Linked DNA regions of Homo sapiens: region 1 is reported to be linked to region 2. Evidence: microRNA targets listed by miRTarBase, many of them from high-throughput screens and not tested one by one. Region 2 holds a microRNA gene; the other region holds the end of a gene's coding sequence.

Region 1 (3,407 bases), not on the chromosome of region 2:
TGACCCTCCGCCATGCAGAGACTGCCGCGGACGCCGAAACACCCTCCTCCCCGTCAGGCTGGCTTGTCCCCGGGCATCTGAACGAGCCAACCTGACAGGATGGGTGCTCAGCGGAGGACACTCTCTGAGAAGCCTGAGATGATGGGGAAACCCACTCTCTAGGGCTGGCTTCCAGCGCAGCTGTTTGGAGAAAGAGCTACCCTGGAGAACCTTAGTCACTGCTACAGTGGTAGAGAAGACGGAGCACAGGAGTAGCTCCTCAGGGAGGAGGGACACAGACCACACCCCCAGCTCCTTGGTGACCTCCAAGGGAACCAGCTGGACGGCAGCAAATGGGCTTTTCCCCCGGCTTTTTCTCAGCTCGCTGTGAACCCGGCCCAGATGCATCCCATGCTTACTCATAGAGTAAAGCAAGCCAGGTATGAGGCAGTTACAAGCCAGCAGTTTTTTATGTGATTGATTCTATCTTCTCTGGAGATGCCCCAAGATTCTCTGGAAACAGTTAGGCCTCAGTATTTCCTAGCCAAGGAGCAAGCTTCCAGGAAATGAGCGAGTGAGCCTCCAATTGTATATGTAGACGTAAAAACAGCATGCATGCCCCTCCACCACCAAGCCTTTTTCATTTCCAAGCTTTTCTCTAATCACCAGGATCCAAACACCTCCAGCCCAGCTCCCATCCCCGCCCTCCTCCTCAGCCTTGGGCCCACCCACCTCTGTCTTCACAAAAGGTGCCCCGCTGGCCGGCACCACAGAAAACATCCAAGCCCAAGGTACTCATGGTTTGTGTGTAAAGGGTTTTTATTGGAGAGCCTGTGGCGCTGAAGTGCCACCAAGGATTTGGAAGGTCACTTTCAGCAGCCGCCATTTCTGCCAGGACCAGTGGCAAGCACCTGGCAGATGGAGCCCGGGTGTTTCTGCGTAAGGCAGAGGAATCCAGCTTTTCCATGAGATTCAGCTGCAGTTGTCGAAAACCCTGTGTGAGCCAGCAGTTCCAGTTCAAAGGTTGAGGGGGCGAACAGCTGCGAGGTGGCCAGGCTCCCGTGAGTCACCACTCAGGCCTGAGTACACCGTGGAGAGGAGAGATAAAGCAGCCACGGCTGTTCTGTTGCCAGTCCCACCCCTCTGGCAAACAGATGGGGGAAAACAGAGAAGGAAAGTCAACAAAGAAGGTGAAATGCAGGGAGCAGAGACTACACGCAGGCCCCCCGTGGCTGGCAATACCATGCGTGCTGGGCCGGCTGCGCCACCCTCACCCAGGGCTTCCCACGGGCTCTGCTCTTTCCTGCAGAGGCGAAACTGCCTTCCTGGCAGGCGGAGGCTGCCGAGCTCCCATGCCCCTTCCCACATATCCCAACTCTTCTCAGAAAACTGAAGAACCGAAGATGGAGGTGAGTCAGGAAAGGCTGGAGTTTTCATCCAAAAAAAAAAAGAGCAGGACAATAAACAGGCAAATACACAAACCCTGGAGCAAAGCCAGGAAAAAAGGGGGAGATAAAAAATAAAAAAATAAAAAACACCTTTCTAGAGAGAGCAAAATCCCAGGGTCCCGAAGGCACTGCTAATAGACTAATAGAAGCATCTTTGTTGCAGCCAATCACCTCTAGCCTGGGAACACCGCTAGTCAGGAGGCCTCAATCAACCTGAGAAGTCAGCCCAAGGCCCTGTCTCCAGAAGCCAGCAGCAGATCCCTGGGTCATGTCACAGGCAAGTCCTCACTTCACCAGCTCAGAGGTGAGCCACTCTCACCTGAACCTCTGCCTTCCGGCAGGGACCTCCTGGGTCCTGTGGGGTCTCCTGGGTCCAGGTGGGTTCCTAGTCCAGCCCCGTCTAGACTGACTTCAAATATAGTCCCCTGACAGTGTGATTTTTTCCAGCCAGCCAAATCACCGTTCATTTTTAAAATGGTTTTTAAAAATTACATTTCTAAGGCAAACAACGTAGAACTGTGACAGAGCAGAGGAACAACAAAAAAGCACAAAGAATGTTGCTAATCACAGGCTGCCTAGCACTTTCCTTTCCCTTCAGAGAAGGAGAAACTGTTTTATAGGTATCACACACGTGCACACGCACACACGTGCACACACACACACACACACACGCACAGTTTTTCCCTGATACTGGAAATTCTTTGTGAACTAGCCACGCTGATTTCTGCTGAACCTTTTTTTTTTTTAAAAAAAAAAAAAAAGGAAGAAAGAAAAGGAGCCACAGACGTGTCCAGGTCTGGAAGGGGCTGACCAGCTCTAAGCACATCCACCTTGAACTCTGACACAGGTAACGCCAAAATGAGGCCAGGACCTGACCAAGCCAAAAAAGCAGCAAAGGATCAGATGGGGTCCAATGTGTAGATCCAGTAGAGAAGAATGTCGGAAATTCTAAATACACAGTTGGACATCCTTCAGGCTTGTTTTAGATTCTTGATCCTCCTGATCTCTTTTACTATTGTCAACAATTGTCTTAAAAAAACTTCTTTAAAATCAACATGTTTCTACCCTTTGCTCCTTAGCAAGGCACAAAGCCTCTTACATGGGGAGTAGAAGTAGGGGGCACTTTAAAGGGATGCCCAAAGGGTGGCAGAAGCAACTCCATTGTGGTGACGTGGAAACGAGCTTGCCAGTGACAGTCTGAGCAGATGCCTGACACGCACGATGGAGCTGGGGTTTTATACATAACGTTCGTTTTGGTTTCAACACCTCCGACGCAAGAGGGCTTCCAGGTCCAGTCCTTCACACCCCAGGTTGCAGCTGACCAACTTTCCACAGGATGCCACCAGGCTGGGAAACAGGTTTTACCTAAAAGAAAGGGAAGGACAAGAGTAAGCCCCTTCTGGCAGAGCCTCGCACCCATTCTGACCCCTCCTGAACATCTCTATCCCTCACCCTCTCAGCCAGTGAAAAGGCCACAGTCCCCAGCCACAGGACCTTTGAGCGTGCTGTCTGGAAGGCGCAATCCACTCTTCCAGCAAACCCCCTCCCTCCCCACAGTTCCCAACTAAGGATCCCTCCCCCAGCTCCCCACACAGACTCCCTAGAACACAACCTCTTTCTCCTTATATCCCTCTCCTTGCCAGCACTTCCAGGGTGTTTACACTAGGGGTTGGAAAACTTCTTCTGTGACAGTCCAGAGAGGAAATATTGTAAACTCTGCAGATCCCACAATCACGGTGATAACTCCTCAACCCTGCTGTTGGGGTGGAACAGCAGCCACAGCAAGAAATGCTTGGCCATGGCTGTGTTCCAGTACAATGTTATTTATAGACACTGAAATTTGAATTGCATGTTACTTTCTCATGTCATAAAATAGTATTCTTCCTTTGGTTCTTTTTCAACCATTAAAATGTGAAAATCATTCTTGGCTCCTGAGCTGTACAAAAACAGACAGTGGGCTGGATTTGGCCCATGGGCCAT
Region 2 (3,407 bases):
TATGGCAAAATTACTTTTCTGCCTTCTATCATAGTCATTTGTGTATAAATCTCCACCAAATTGGGAATTACTCAAATGCAAGGATTATGTCAAACATTCATAGCACAAGTGTTTTATACAAGTAATTACTTTCTTAAAAATTTAACTTTTATTTTAATTTCAAGGGTATGTTTGCAGGTTTGTTATATATGTAAACTTGTGTTATGGGGTTTGTTGTACAGATTATTTCATCACCCAGGTATTAAGCCTAGTACCCATTAGCTAATTTTTCTGATCCTCTCCCTCCTCCCATCCTCCACCCTCTGATAGGCCCCAGAGTGTGTTGTTTCCCTCTATGTGTCCATGTGTTCTCATCTTTTAGCTGCCACTTATAAGTGAGAACGTAGTATTTGGCTTTCTGTTCCTGTATTAGTTTGCTAAGGATAACAGCCTGCAGCTCTATCCATGTTCCTCCAAAAGACATGATCTCATTCTTTTTTATGGCTGCATAGTATTCCATGGTGCATATGTACCATATTTTCTTTATCAAGTCTATCATTGGTGAGCATTTACTTGATTCCATGTCTTTGCTATTGTGAATAGTGCTATAATGAACATATGCATGTATATGTCTTTATAATAGAATGATTTATATTCCTTTGGGTAAATACCCTGTAATGGGATTGTTGGGTTGAATGGTAGTTCTGTTTTTAGGCCTTTGAATAATAAATAATTTCTTAATACTTATTCGGCACTAAATTCTACTTAACTGGTTAATTGAATTTCATTGAGTTAAATTGAAACATTTGGAGTGCTCTACCCTATAGAAGTCACTAAGTATTGTTAATAAAAACCAAATACTAATCCTCTTTCCATCCCGGGGCCTTTACCCTTGCTTTGTCTATGACTGCAACATTTTCCCTTAAGACTACGGCTCTGATAAATTATCCAGTCCACTACTCAAAATGTCACCTCTTCAGAGTACTTTTCTGAACAACCAAAATGAAAGCAAATACATACTCTGCACAAACTATCTCCTTATCCTGTTTTACTTTCTTCATGAAACTTACTATTATGTGACTTTATATTACATCATATATTAATGTATTTATTAGTTTATGTATACCCACACAGATTTCATTGCAGCAGGGAACTTGTCTGCAACCCCAGAGGCAAAATGAAATGTATTACTTGGATAGTGTATTAGTCAAATGATTTGCACTGATTATGATCTTTTGTGACCTTAAGCAAATCACAGTAGCCATCTACTATCAGTTTACCTCCACATAAAATGGAGGACCCCAATATCCCTGTTAGTTTCGGCATATAATTGGTATAGGATCTTATAGAACCTCTTTTTTTTAGCAATTCATGCTACAATTTTATTTTTATTTTTATTTTTTGTGGGTACTTAGTAGTTGTATATAGTTATGGTATACAAGACATATTTTGATACAGGCATGTAATGCATAATACTCAAGTCATGAAAAATTGAGTCTCCATCCCCTCAAGCATTTTATACCTGGGTACTCTCAATGTTTCTCTCTGCTATGAAAGGAAAGTTAGCTTTCAAGATATTATCTGATGATACAAGATTTTTAGAAAACAATAGACTTCACAGGGCATGTTATGTCTTCCTTTGACACTAAAGAGATCTAGTCTTGTTCCTGGCCCTCAGTGACTCATCCCCTTTTTCTGTAGTAGGAGCTCTCCTGGCTTAAAGTAAGGCTAATAGAGGGGTCAGGTCAGGATTGAAGAGAAGAAAAACAAGTTCTGTGGCTCTCTTGAGGTTGACCCAGAAGGGTCATTAATGCAGACATTGACTAATATCTATGGGTAAGATCAACAGTGAACCTGCATCTGAGACATGCACAGGCCCAGGAAGTGATACTTTTGATAAGTCTTCATTGGCACTTCTGAGGTCGCTGAGGATGGAGATCTGTGCCATTTACTGGACAGAGCAAGCCCATAAGAGCATGACATTGGAAGTCTATGTAAAAAGACTTCAGATCATCCTCCTCATTTTAGCTCACCATCTAGCAAGTTCAAGAATGGCACCTCTTCCCAAAAGTTGAAGCAATAATTTGGCCTCTCTGGTATTTAGAATTTCCTGAATTAACCCCAAAACAGTTGAGTCCTGAGAACCATTGAGAACCAGTTTTCCCAGGATTAACTGTTCCGAGAGATAAAAACTATTTTAGTAAGAACTTAATTTCCAAAGGCAAATTTCCCTGCTCCCTGTTCATCCCTCACATACACATTTCAAGTCAATGCAGTCTTTTCAAAAGAAAATCAAACCAGGACAATTGCCTCTGATATAATTGGTTTAAGGAGGAGAAGTAGATTTCTAATCTGAGGCTGTATAAATGTATCCCACTTTTTCAAACTGGTTATCATACTTTCTGAAATTCCACCATTGGGTTTTATTGCTTTAGATTAAGGCACTGCTATGTCTATAAATTGTTTAGGTAACAAATTCTTATAAGCCATTGCCCCTTCTTTTCTCGTATCTTTCATCTTTTGTTCCATGGCCTTTTTTTTGGTTTATGTCCTCAGTCTCAGGACCCCTTTGTCTATAACAAACAAATGGGTAACAAAAATCTCTGCCTGACATTCTAAATTCTTGATCAGTTTATCACCTTTTATTCCCAGTCAAATATATAAAACACATAATTTGCATCATTTTTACTCTCTCATCATTCCTTTCCTTCCTAACTTCCTCCAAACTGCTTCTTTTTCCATCTTCCCTACTCTACCCTTACCACACCATTCCAGCCTTCTTTCCAACTTATCTTTCCAAAGGCTCTAATAAATTTTATCTACTCTCACTCTCCCAGTTTTTTTCATTTGTTTGTTTTTGAATTTTGAACACTTTTGACACTGTCTATTGATTCAACCCAAACGTCCAACAATGATAGACTGGATTAAGAAAATGTGGCACATATACACCATGGAATACTGTGCAGCCATAAAACATGATGAGTTCATGTCCTTTGTAGGGACATGGATGAAATTGGAAATCATCATTCTCAGTAAACTATCACAAGAACAAAAAACCAAACACCGCATATTCTCACTCATAGGTGGGAATTGAACAATGAGAACACATGGACACAGAAAGGGGAACATCACACTCTGGGGACTGTTGTGGGGTGGGGGGAGGGGGGAGGGATAGCATTAGGCGATATACCTAATGCTAAATGACGAGTTAATGGGTGCAGCGCACCAGCATGGCACATGTATACATATGTAACTAACCTGCACATTGTGCACATGTACCCTAAAACTTAAAGTATAATAATAATAAAAAATGTATATATTCAATGCCCACTATGTGCCACACATTCTCCTCCTTTCTAAAATATATTTTGTTCATTGTCTTTTTTTTCCTTCCTTCCACACTCCCTCCCTTTTTCCCTCCCTCATTC

Evidence for each region. Region 2 holds the annotated microRNA hsa-miR-4328 (CCAGUUUUCCCAGGAUU, at 2,134-2,150, shown strand). A microRNA usually pairs through its seed, bases 2 to 8, with sites in the 3' UTR of a target mRNA and lowers its output. Matches are read on the target gene's strand: a 7mer-m8 pairs with bases 2 to 8, a 7mer-A1 pairs with bases 2 to 7 and ends in A, and an 8mer does both.
Region 1: miRTarBase lists FAM174B as a target of hsa-miR-4328. Seed matches in the 3' UTR shown: 7mer-m8 at 2,102-2,108.

Annotation. Positions count from the first base shown.
Region 1 is chr15:92,616,668-92,620,074 of GRCh38, forward strand. FAM174B (family with sequence similarity 174 member B) reads right to left here. Exons shown (of 3, transcript NM_207446.3): 3 at 781-2,792. The coding sequence ends at 2,789. Among named protein-coding and RNA genes, the nearest start is that of FAM174B, 37 kb to the right of the region's middle.
Region 2 is chrX:78,899,947-78,903,353 of GRCh38, reverse strand. It overlaps MIR4328 (microRNA 4328), which reads left to right and starts at 2,105; the gene lies at 2,105-2,160.